4 linked regions of the Homo sapiens genome follow. The protein of the gene in region 2 interacts with the protein of the main gene of each other region in a biochemical or structural test. Each region holds a gene or a part of one and is shown on either strand. Other genes may lie near its edges.

Region 1 (3,500 bases), on a different chromosome or scaffold from region 2:
TCTAATTTTTCACAATTATAAACTAGTATTACAATAGCCATCCTTGTAGATAAACTTTTGCTAAGTTTTAGCTAACTTAATGACACATCTTCATGAGGGTGAATTTGATTTCTGAAAAATTTCAAAACTCATTAGAGTCCAGTCTTATGAAAACGGCTGCCTGTTCAAGTTGGATGATGTAAGTTAAAATTTCTAAATAAAAGTGCCATATGAATGAAAGGCATCAAACTGTTAATTGATAAGTCAAAAAGAGCAAGGGATACAGTTTAGTTTTCTGTAACAGCTAACTAAGAATAAAACGAGAATAAAAACCTTGAATTTTTGAGTCAGATATACTTTGAAGGTGTTGATAATTACAAATTTTTCTCTTAATGTCTTTTGATAAAATTTGTTTTTGGGTCTGGGTGGTAGGAATAGGAAATTAAGATTATACGCACATATCTACACTTGTAGATTTAGCATTCAATGTTTCATGTTTTGGAAACAAAGTTCTAAGATGCACATATGGCTGTGGCATGTGACAAACCCCTATAGCCAGCAAACGGAGGCTGGTGTGCTGAAGAACGTGAATGAGTGAGCGAGGATGGAACAGGAGCTAAGGAAGTGGGCTCAAGTCTTATTTACAAATTCAGAGAGACCAAAGAGTTTTAGTCAAAGGACCTATTTTATATATATGTATACACACACACATATATATATATTTTTTTTTTGTAGAGACAGGGTCTTGCTATGTTGCCCAGGCTGGTCTTGAACTCCTGGCCTCAAGTGATCCCTCTGTCTTGGCCTCCCAAAGTGCTGAGATTACACGCATGAGCCACTGGGCCCAGCCCCTATTATGATACTTAAACATTTAAATACTGTTTAAAAAAGATACACAGGCTGGGTGCAATGGCTCATGCCTGTAATCCCAGCACTTTGAGAGGCATAGGCAGAAGGACTGCTTGAGCTTAAGAGTTCAAGACCAGCCTAGGCAACACAGCAAGACCCCGTATTTAAAACAAACAAACAAAAAAGATACATACACACAGAAAACGGTTTAGAAGAAAATATACCAGGTATTAACACTGAGTGCCTTTAGGTATGTGAGATGTTTTCTTTCCCTTCATTTTGTTTGATTTTACTTTTTAATTTTTCTGTAATGATCATGTCCCTTTAGTCATGAAAACATTTCTTAAAGGAGACACAAAAATTGTTCAGATAAAATTTTAGTTAAAAAGCAGGTGGATGAAAAAGCTAGCACGCTGAATTTCTTAAAGTTAGAAGATAAAAGGAAAAATTAACAAACAAACCTGAAATGGGAGATGTTCAATTTAATGTGAAAAACAAGCACATTTCAAAATATGTTTTATTGGTACCTCCTCTGATGTCACTTTTCCAATCCTATAGTCAGGACAATACAAGGGATTAGCCAAGGCATTCCGGTAAGCTGCTGCATGCAAATTTTCAATGACATCTGTGAGATAAGTGAAGAAGCATTTAGGGAAATGCACTTTCAGTAAAGACAACATTTTTAAAACCTAGAAAGCAACAAGCCTATACAAATTTGGTCATCTTCTGGCATTCATATGTTAAGAGGACTTAAAATTTATTATTATTTAACCTCTAGTAACTGCCAGTTTCTGCCAGTAGAATGTGCTGAGAAAAAAATAAAAAAGATTACATGGCAGCAGCTTCTATATACTGGAGTCCACCTAAACCACTTTTCTAACTTTAACCTAGCTGGTATCACTTGGAAGGTATACTGGCCTGGGTTTTGGGAAGTCCCCATCTAGTTATGGTTCTGCCGCCATCTTGCCATGTGACCTTGGACAAGTCATTTAATCTGAATTTTACTTACTCCTAGGTTTCCTCTCTAGGTAATAAGGAGATTGTCAGGTAGCTTTCAGGGGACCAATGGGAGCTTCCACTGGGACTTACTCCTCTGTGGTGCTTGGTGCTTTCCCTGCTTTCTTGCTTCAATGCCTTTTTGCCTGCAGTATTTCCTTCAGTTGCTCATTACCTGGCAACTTGCCTATGCGAGGCACTGTGCTAGGTGCTAGAAATACAGAGATGTGGAACATACAATGCCTGCCCTCAAATTTTAAGAGGAAAAACTGTGAAATAAAGTATTATGGGTGCAATGTCGGCAGTGTGTCAAAAGTGCAGTAGAGGTACAAGGCAAGGGCAGTGGGAATTGGAAAACAATTAATACAAGTAATATGTGGGATCCATCTTACAGAATGAGCTGGTGTTTCCCAGGGGAAATCATTTGGGAACAGCATTTTAGGCACAGGAAGCAGACAAAACAAAGGCATAAAGTATAACAATAATTTGATTCAAATGGGAATTGCAGCTGGAAGGAGAAGAGGGTAGAGCATAAAGTAAGAGAAGTGGGCTGGGGTAAGATCACGCAAGGCCATATACGTATATGCTGTTTGGACTTTATCCCATAGATAATAAGAAGGCTTACTTTCACGTCAGAAGGATCACTGTAATGGCCGTGTGGGAGATGGACTCAAGACGTAAACCTGGAGGCTGACACCAGCCAGGAGACTACACAGTAACTGTTCAGGCAGAATAGATGCAGGCTGGTGCCTCACTGCCGCCAGTGGGGAAGAAGCCACTCTGGACACATAGGTCATCTTTTCTAAAATTGTACTATTCTATCTATTTCTTCAGTAGAAATCCTGAGCAACAAAGATAATGCTCCTCTGTGACACCAAGCATCATCATGAAATAACATCAGTCCCCAGGCCTGCATGTGGAGGGGAGCCTGTCCCATGCTGAACCACTGAGTTGAGCTATTTCTGCTCTTCCTGCACATTTCTGCTCCCACCAGAAGTTGTATGACTCCCAAGAGTCAGCGGCGCTTGCTTACAGACTTGTATTACCAGTTGTACTTGTCAAGATTATATAATTAGACATTATATAAACATAAAATATGAATGCAAAAAAGATTCCTATTAAAAAAATTAAGTTACTTACTTTGGAAAGACTCAATAAAGAGGAGATGGCTAAACAATAATAGCAATACAATAGTAAGCAATAATAGCAGCAGCAATAAACTGGTGTAGGATTTGGGGTAAGCAAAACAACTCTTAAAAATCACTAGGGGTCAGGCACAGTGGCTCACGCCTGTAATCCCAGCACTTTGGGAAGCTGAGGTGGGAGGATCACTTCAGCCCAGGAGTTCGAGACCAGCCTGGGCAATAGAGTGAGACCTCATCTCTATAAAAAAATAAAAATAAAAATTAGCAGGGTGCGGTGGTGTGTGCCTGTAGTCCCAGCTACTCAGGAGGCTGAGGTAGGAGGATCACCTGAGTCCAGAAGGTTCAGGCTGCAGTGAGATTGTGCCACTGCACTCCAGCCTGGGCAACAAGCAACACCCTGTCTCAAAAACAAACAAACAAACAAACAAAAACAAAACATTGGGAAGGAAACAGGAAAAACTTCTAGGATCTTACAAACAATTTACTTACCATCAAACATGAAAAATGATTATAAATGTTTAGAAACAAAAG
Region 2 (3,500 bases):
AACAAAAATAGTTGATGGTAATTTTAGAATAATATTAAAAGAGATAAAAGTTAGAAGAACCATTTATTCTTAGTGTTTCTTTTCTAATGTAGAAATGTTGACTAGAGAGGTTTAATTTAAAACACAGCCCTATTTTCCCATTGTTTTAGTAAATATTTCATAGGCAGAGGACCTGCTCTTCTCAAGTCCTCCATCGTGAATTCAAATATTCTTGCTAAGCACTATTTAAAGTCTTTTGTGCGCTATTTAAAGCAAAGCGAACATGTTTTTCTCAGTTTTCTTAACTTGAGGCTATGATGCATGCTTCCTTACGCCCCTAAGAGATGTAACCAGAAAATGAATGAACTATAAATAACATACTCCCTTACATTACAAGTTAAATCATAAGTTTATTATAAAGGAAACAGAAGAATAACACAGTGGCTTAAAAACTGATTTGGCTGATATTGAAACAGCTTGATTACCATAGAGTTTTCCTAAGTACTCATAGACGTGGGAAGTGAGCAGAAAATCAGGCCTGAGGGTGGCTACAAAGGTAGCTATCCTGAATCCAGGACAACGTTAAGGGCTCTGGGCTCCAGGTGAACAAACTGCCTGGATTTGGGGATGACAGGATCCTACCCACTGGCAATAACACCCACTGGGCCAAAGCCCTCCTGAGAATGAAGCTTTCCTAGTAAGGATTTTATTTAAGAAAATAATATAATGCTTAAAATTTCAAATTACACAGGTGTGTCATCTCAAAGCCCTTCTCAGTTTAAACAATCATATCTAAATCATCATTTAAATCACGATTCTTTACAAAACATAACTGCCAATAGAGAAATAATCTATACACAGGAGATCAGAATGACCTATGCTATTCCCACAGAAAGAGCAGTTTTATAGAATTAACAGGCAGGGCAGAGACCACCAAATGCAGTCTGAAATGTGCTAATGTTTTCCTATCAACATTTTCAAATCAAATTTCAAAAAACCAGAGACTGCTTTTCGAGATGTGTTACATCATGAATCAGAAAATACAAACCCTACCTGATGTGTTACATCATGAAGCAGAAAATACAAACCCTACCTGGTCGGAAGGAGAGCAGCATTTGTTCGCCATCTTCATCTGTGGAGAGAAGGCAGAAGAGTCAGGGCCACAGCCACCAACACCAGGATGGCTCACCTGAGTGACAGCTGGAAGTCATCAGCCACGCTCTGTCCTGGGAAACAGGCCTCTTTAATGACATATTTCCTATCTGAAGACCTAGCCAGAGTCAATACAAACATGGCAGCAGTAGAAAACAACTTTACTAGCAGGCTTCAATTCCTCTTTTTCAAATATCAGCATTTATGTAAGTGAAGTTACACTTCAAGAGCAGGTGCTTAAATTCCAATATCTGAGAAAAGTGAGGAAATGATTTCTGCTCTACATAACCTTGTGAGAGTCAGTATTACTGTGATGGTAATTACGGTGATCACAGTTGATATTCTTTCTTTTATTTAGTTCTCCCAATGACCTATGGAGGTAGATGTTGTTTTCCAAAATTTCACCGAGGAAGTGGAGGTGCAGAATCATAATGTTCCCACAGCCCACAGCCACACAGCCGGGAGGCAGCTCAGAGTCCACATTTCTGTTCTGAAATATTGGGGTGTCTGACTTCTCTGCCCTGCCTATGAGGGCTGATTTGTGAAATGACAGAACTGAAGGGCGCTCCTCGTCACAAACATTTCTGCAAATATAAGTCAAGCACCATCCTTTCTTCCCTATTTATTGAGATAACTTTGGAATTTAAAGTGTTGCGTTTGAAAACTACAATGTTAGGAAGGTCCTGGTACTTCCTTCTCTGCTTGCAGAAAGGAAGCCCCTGAGGTCTTCACAGGAGAAATGTCACACATTGCTGCTTCCCCCAGTGTTAGGTTAACTTCTGTTTTGCAGCCACAGGAAGAAGGGAGGTTGCAAGGGAGACGTGAGGTGGTGGGCAGGGCAGGGGCAGGGCGGGTGCATCTGCAGGGCCGCAGGGTGGGCCACGCCTGGCCAGTCTGCAAGCTGGACCCAGCCTCTGCAGCCTCCAGGCTGCGAAGGAACAGAGCAGGGATCGAAGTGCAATTACAGGGCAACTCAGCTTAGAGGGAGCAAGGGCAGCAAGGCTGGTCCAGGGCCGCCTCCAGGCACGGCCAGTCCTGCCACAGTTGCCAGGGCTGCGGCCACGGCTCCATGTCCGAGTCCAGGCACCCATCACTCCAGGCAACGCCCGTGTCATCAAGTCTTCGTTCCCACCCCATCTCTTTTCATTTCTTTAATTTTTAAAATCCTGTTGACTTTTAATATCAAACATCACTTAAGGGGACAGAATACTTTTTCGTTTCTGGGGGACTGCAGTACAAATTTGAGAAGTAATGTTTTTGCTCAATTATGCCTTTTTCTAAATCTTCATAATGTTTGGGAGAATTATACTTTTAACTCAATTAGGTTTCCCCAACTCAAAATGTCACACTGTATCAATGCATTTGGGTAAAATATAAAATTATGACATATAACTATTTCTGTATATGTGTGTGGAGAGAAAGAGAGAGGAAGGGAGGGAGAGAGACAGAGGCAGACAGAGGGGAGGAGGAAGACAAAACCAGATGGGAAATTCTCAGCTGTTAGACATTGCCTTACTCTTTGATTTGGAAACATTCTGATGGCTTCATTTTTAATGTTTTTAGACATAGATTTGACACATTGAAACAAGTACATGATTTTCTGTTTCGGGTTAATCATAAATCATCAGAAACATGATGTCTCCATTATTTTTCATGCACGAATGAGCATCAGCAGAGACTCAGAAACACCGTGTGCTCACGTTCTGAAGTGTCAGCTCCCTGATGTTGGCTGAGACCGCCCGCAGCCAGTCGGTGCCATCCTGGGCTGTGTAAAACCGGAGGATCCCAGAGCTGACTCCGTCCAGGGCGAGCACCTCGAACGCATTCCACCTGGGGAGGGAGAGAGCTGTCCAGGAGGCCCCGCAGCGACGGGAGCGGGCCTGCCTCCGTGAGTTTCGAGGCTGATGCTCAGCAGGGCTCTACCCTGGACCCAGGACATGGGGCAACTGCACCACTTCCTCAGGCGCCTCAGTACAGTCAGCAGGCTCGCTGAGACCAAGACCAAACCCCGAATTCCCTTGGTAACAGGAGCTACTTCTAATTCGATGAAACATGAAAAGCACTTTGTCAAGGAAAGAACAGTGCTCCTGAAATTCTGGAGTTATTGTCTGCAGGATTCTTACTGGTTATTCTTTCGAAGACCCTTTGGATGGAGCACTTAAAGCTCCTGATGGGGTGAGGCTGGAGCAGCCCAGCACCCTCTGCACTCAGCATCCACCCTTCTCTAGGACCACCTGTGTGCTTCTGATTGACAGGGGAGCTTTGGGAGAACATAGTCCCCTTCCACTGCTCCATGACACTCCACTTGCTGAGAACTCAATCATGGCAAAGTATTAACAACCAACCGTCTCAAATTCAGTAGTTCTTCC
Region 3 (2,322 bases), on a different chromosome or scaffold from region 2:
CAAATCCTGTTAGGTAGGGCTCTTCTGGCTGTGTGGGACAGGATTCAAACTCAACGTTTTTTCAGCCAAAAGGGGAATTGATTGGGAAGATGTGGGCGTGTCACAGAACAGCCTGGTATTGGGAAAGGCAGGAGTGAGTGGGGCTTCCTCTCCCCACCTCTTTTCTTTCTTTCTTTTTTGAGATGGAGTCTTGCTCTGTTGCCCAGGCTGGAGTGCAGTGGCACAATCTTGGCTCACTGCAGCTTTCGCCTCCTGAGTTCAAGCAATTCTCCTGCCTCAGCCTCCCGAGTAGCTGGGATTACAGGTGCCCACCACCACAGCCGGCTAATTTTTGTATTTTTTAAAAATAGAGACAGGGTTTCACCATGTTGGCCAGGCTGGTCTCGAACTCCTGACCTTGTGACCCACCCACCTCAGCCTCCCAAAGTGTTGGGATTACAGGCATGAGCCGCCACGCCCGGCTACCCACCTCTTTTCTTTTCTTTTTTTTTTTTTTTTTTGTGATGGAGTCTTGCTCTGTCATCCAGGATGGTGTGCAGTGGCACGATCTTGGCTGACTGCAACCTCCACCTCCCGAGTTCAAGCGATTCTCCTGCCTCAGCCTCCCGAGTAGCTGGGATTACAGGTGCCCACCACCACAGCCAGCTAATTTTTGTATTTTTAATAGACACGGGGTTTTACCATATTGGCCAGGCTAGTCTCGAACTCCTGACTTCAGGTATCTACCCACCTCGGCCTCCCAAAGTGCTGGGATTACAAGCGTGAGCCACCGTGCCTGACCTCCACCTCTTCCCTTGTGGGTTCTTTTCTCCCTCTGCAGACCTCACAGAGTCACCTGGGCTTGAGGCCTCATAGAGGAGCCCTCAGTGCTGACCACACACTACAGTCCCCTGAGGAGCTACATGACTTCTGATGCCAGGTCCACCCAGACCAATGAAATAAGAGTGTCTGGGGTTGGAGCCTAGGCATTGTGCCCCCAGGTGATTCGAATGTGCATGCAGGGTTGGGAACCATTGCACTATAGCTTCAGGCACCCAGAGGAGAAACTCCTGCAGTTCTCATTCATTAGAGGGGCAGGACTCTGGGGAACCTATTTAGGGTCAGGTGGCCACATCCTCTGACCAGAGGCTGGACAAGTCCCTGTTGTGCCCCGGTGGATGTGCAGCACCGGCCAGGCCAGGCGCCGAGGGGTCAGTCCCCCAGCAGCTCCCTGCCATTTGTGTCATTCCTCCCCTCCCTGCCCTTGACTGCAGTGTACATGGCAGTCATCTCATCTGACTTGGTTTCCGTCACTTTCCCTCTCAGAGTCAAGCTCGAAGGAGAAGCTGAGCTGCGTTCTTGAGATCTGGGGACGTGGTGGGAGATGTGGTCACAAGGCAGGTGGTGGAGGAGGCCAGAATGGAGCTGGCCAAGGAAGGTGCGTGGCAGGGAAGGGGAGGTTCTGTGATGGATGCTTTCCCCAGAAGCCTGATACGCAGTGGCCAGGGAGACTGAGTCCCGGGAGAGGGTTTGGGGTGGGAGAGGTCTGAGCATGAGGGGCAGGGCACACTCTGGTTCAGGGAGATGTAGGACAAAGGACTCTGGCCTTGGGACTGATCTGGGCTGGTTTCCTTACATTCCTCTCAGGCCCTTCCCCCTGTATGCTAAGGGGGGATGGTACCTGGACTTCAAGACCAAAAGCCCTTCTCTGACCGCACTGCTGAGTGCAGCAGGCAGCTCCACCCACAGTCTCTGGGCAGCCCCAGGCTGTCCCCTCCCCACTCTGATTCTAGGACAAAGACCTTGGACCTCAGCTGGATGCTGGGGATCAGGAGAGGAGGAATGGTAGGTGTGGAAACAAGGGGCAGGATTCGGGGTGAGCAGAGCTGGGGGCTGCAGACCTTGCTCAGGACAGTCCTAATGCCTGCAAGCTCCTAACGCCCTCCCCACATTCCCTTTTCTACATGGGGAGCTCCTACACTGTGTCCCCTCACCTATCGCTGATCCCCAGCATCCAGCTGGAGGGCCTTCCAGGAACTGTCCCTTCCCTTAGGAGGTCTCTGGAGCACAGTAACAGGGGCAGGGTTTACTACCTTGGGGCCTCTTTCCACACCAGGGGCTCCCTGACCCTGGGGACTGCTCCTAGAGCTGGGCCAAGCCTCAGGGGCAGCCTCCAGGAGTGAGTGGGATCTCCTATCAAGGAGGACTTTGTGCCAAGGCCAAGGCCAGGCTTGGGAGGGGGGTCCCTAGACAGAGGGTAGGACCTCTGAATTATTTCTTGCTTAGCCCTGGATGTGCTATGTAACCCACCCTGGACCTCTGTCTCCTCATCTTTCTGCCCAA
Region 4 (3,500 bases), about 150 Mb from region 2:
ATCCTTTATTGTATATCAGTATGGTGCCTTTGTACATATTACTCTTCCTCTTCTACCTGGCTAACCCCTTTTTGGTTTTAAGACTGAGAAGTATCACCTCTTTAGAAACATTTTCTCTGTCACTCAACCCAGATTGAGTTAGTTGCTTTCTGTTCATCTAACACCTTGTAAATGACCTTGATTTCAGTAATAATTGCAAATGTTTACTTGCCTGTTTCCACTTTAGACTGTGCAAATGTTTACTTTCCTGTTTCTACTCTTTGAAGACATCTTTCCTTTATCCACACACCCATTCCTGGAACCTGGTACACAATAGGTGCTCAGCAAATGTTTATTAAATGAATGAAATGAAATTATTTCACTTCTCTGAGCCACGGTTGTCCTCTTAATGTATTGAAGTGGTGAACTTGGATTAGATGATCCCTGATTTTTTTTCCTACTCTGAAAGCTTTATGGTTCTATAATTTTAAGGTTAGAGTTCAGTGGTGACATTTTATTAAGAAAAGATGATTTTGCTCATTGTTTTGATATCTTTAAGTTATGTTCAAATTTAAATTTTTTTAAATAATTAAAATTAGAATTTGAATTATATAGATTTAGAGGGGATCTTAGGTATCCTCATGTTCCATGGCTTTCATACTTTTTTGACTGTAATACACAATAGGAATTACACATTGCATTATGACTTAGTTCCCATGTAGTAGTAGGGGTGTATGTATATATGTCTGTGTGCATCAGAAATGAAAGTTTCATGAACTGTGTACTCTTAACTATGTGCAGGACACTTATGTATTTTTATATTACATTTCATTTAAAAAACATTGATCGTGACCCATTAATTGATTCATTGACCAACTAATGGATTGTAAATCCCTAAAACCAGTGACCTAGTTCAACAATCCTTATTTCCTGTATTCAGTACTCTCTTAGTGGAAAAGGAAGCTTCATATGTAAATGTGTGCAATGAAAAATATATGCACTGAAAAATATGGTCATTAATTAATCTACAATAGAGACTGTGTGCCTAGGTATAGAATATAGGGAAAACTGGTCTCAAGGGAGAACATGGCTCTTCCCTGATTAAGGTCTTCTCTCTTTTGGACTAGTCGAATAAATTAAGCACACACGAAGGCGCTGAAACAACATTAGATTGTAATTTTGGGGAGTTGGGATTTTTTAATTTAGGAAAGACTTGCTGGACTTAGTACTGGAAAAAAAGTCTTAGACGGAGATTAGGAAGGATGTTAATATGAAGGAAAAGACACAAAATAGCATCAGGAACACAATAGCCATTTGAGAGTAAACTTGACCATGGATGAAGGCAAGGTGGGATGGAGAAATTTTGACTAAATCTGAGGAAGAGATTTGTGTGATGAAGAGAGTTCACAATTGCTTGAAGAAGTAGGACAATCTCAGGGGGTTAACCCTTAAATTCAAATGAAAAGTAATTAAAACTGAGGAGGTAAGAGTGGATGATACATATCCTGATGTATGTCCCAAATACCCCATATGTGGATATAGGACTGAAAAGCAACTCGAAGACTAAGGTAGAATGGTAGCACTACTAAATAAAATTGGTAAGGAAGTAATGAGCCAGAGGAAAATTGAAAGTGCCTTCATAACTAAAAAAGTTTACAGATAGATATAGTTTTAGATGATAAGCATGAATAGAAATAAAGACATGTATTTGGAAAAATAAGAGTACATAATAAAACATGATAACGTAATATTCTCTTAAAGAGGCAGACACTGTATGATGGATATGTCTTCATTGTGAAGTCTAGTTAAAGAATTCTAAACATTAGTGGCTCAATATGTTGTTTATGTTTAAATGATGGTCAAATTTCAGTAATTACTCATACTGGTCATCCAGATTATATTCTTTGAAATCTGTATGAGACCCTACAGTAAAATACACTGTTCTAAGGAAGTAGATTTAGATGCTTTTCTGAATTTGGTATATGGTATTCACGCTTGAAACCTAAACTTTTCAGTGACCATTCTTTTGGACTAGTTTTTTCTTTGGTTGGCTGTAGTCACACTGGGAATTACTTTATTCTCTAATATTGCTAAAGAAAATAAATGTAAAGCAAGAAGAGAGTTACTACATTAGAAGGACTGGCTACACATGTGGGGAGGGGTTGCCTTTCAAAAGATTTTAAAAATGAATCAAGTCTTTACATATTGTAATAAAAGTAAGCCTATTTATAAAGCTTAGAGGGAGGAGTTTTCGTAGTTATGATTATTAACTTTAAAATTTTTATTTTAAAGGAAAAGTTTATTGTTCTTCCCATCTTCATAACTATATGTGATATATCAAGCTTGCTCCAAGGCATTATTTCAAGAGGAAGGGGCATGGACAAGTTATGAGATCTTGGCACATTTCTAAAACTCTGAGATTAACTTTTAAAATTTGTAAACCAAGATGTATTAAATGAATTGATAACTCCACATAACATGGTAGCTGGTCCAGAGTAGATCTTACATATTAGTTTTTAATCTATCTTTAAGTCCCATTTAAAAGGATATGGTATGTAAAACATTAAAAAATATAGATTTGGTTCTTGGGGGATATTTACATTTGCAGGTTACTTATCAGTCAGTTAATGTGAAATAATACTCTGACTAAATGATACAGCCAAAGAACATATCATTATAGAGAGCCAGATAGCTGCCAATAAATATCTAGAATATTCAGATATCGTGGTTCCTTACAAAGAGTTCTTTAAGGTCTCACTGTTTTAGCATGCATTAAAAAGAAACAATGGACTAAATCGTCTCTATTTATTAGTGGGAATTTAAAATATCTTTTTTTCTTGGACAACTTCTCTTAAACTTTTTAAGTGTTTTAAAACTTTTTAGTAGAAGTAAAGTTTTGAAAGATTCTCAAGTCTGTTTTTTAGGTACCAGCTACTTTAAGCTTTGAAAACACAAAGCTATTCAATGACTGTACTTTGAGATCAATATTTTGAATGTGGTATAATATTTTGGACTAAAACTTAAGAGTCTGTCATTCAAATTCCTACTTTCCTACTGACTCTTCTTTGACCTTTGACAGCCATTAAGATTTCACTTTACTCACCCTAAATTAAAGAGGGTGAAATAGGTATTCATTCACTTAACAAATCAATATTGAACTACATGCTAGACACTATGGTAAGTGCTTGGGATACATTATTAAACATGAAGACAGATATGATTATGCCTTTCTGAAGCTTATAGTCATAAAGTAAGTAGTCAAATGAACAACATAATTACAGATTGTCATACGTGCTCGGACAGAAACTAACAGGGTGCCGAGAGGATTACTCTTTATTTGCCTTATCACATATCACATCTGTTTACTTTATCTGCCTATTTCTTTTTTTTTTGAGACTGAGTCTCGCTCTGTTGGCCAGGCTGGAGTGCAGTGGTGCAATCTTGGCTTACCACAACCCCAGCCTTCCAGTTCAAGTGATTCTCCTGCCTCAGCCTCCTGAGTAACTGGGACTACAGGCATG

The links. Proteins that work in one complex are often made in the same cells at the same time.
Region 1: the proteins of SNTG2 (region 2) and UQCRC2 interact in a test that uses a peptide from one of them, tested with the Homo sapiens proteins (one large-scale study listed by IntAct).
Region 3: the proteins of SNTG2 (region 2) and CLDN19 interact in a test that uses a peptide from one of them, tested with the Homo sapiens proteins (one large-scale study listed by IntAct).
Region 4: the proteins of SNTG2 (region 2) and ACVR2A interact in a test that uses a peptide from one of them, tested with the Homo sapiens proteins (one large-scale study listed by IntAct).

Annotation. Positions count from the first base shown.
Region 1 is NC_000016.10:21,963,361-21,966,860, reverse strand, and holds part of UQCRC2 (cytochrome b-c1 complex subunit 2, mitochondrial precursor), read right to left. Parts: intron 1,454-3,500; coding exon 1,356-1,453; intron 1-1,355. UniProt on the Homo sapiens protein: Component of the ubiquinol-cytochrome c oxidoreductase, a multisubunit transmembrane complex that is part of the mitochondrial electron transport chain which drives oxidative phosphorylation.
Region 2 is NC_000002.12:1,237,349-1,240,848, reverse strand, and holds part of SNTG2 (gamma-2-syntrophin), read right to left. Parts: intron 2,962-3,500; coding exon 2,832-2,961; intron 1,112-2,831; coding exon 1,073-1,111; intron 1-1,072. UniProt on the Homo sapiens protein: Adapter protein that binds to and probably organizes the subcellular localization of a variety of proteins. May link various receptors to the actin cytoskeleton and the dystrophin glycoprotein complex.
Region 3 is NC_000001.11:42,732,593-42,734,914, forward strand, and holds the end of CLDN19 (claudin-19), read right to left. Parts: 3' UTR 501-2,322; downstream 1-500. UniProt on the Homo sapiens protein: Forms paracellular channels: coassembles with CLDN16 into tight junction strands with cation-selective channels through the strands, conveying epithelial permeability in a process known as paracellular tight junction permeability.
Region 4 is NC_000002.12:147,851,529-147,855,028, forward strand, and holds part of ACVR2A (activin receptor type-2A isoform 1 precursor), read left to right. Parts: intron 1-3,500. UniProt on the Homo sapiens protein: On ligand binding, forms a receptor complex consisting of two type II and two type I transmembrane serine/threonine kinases.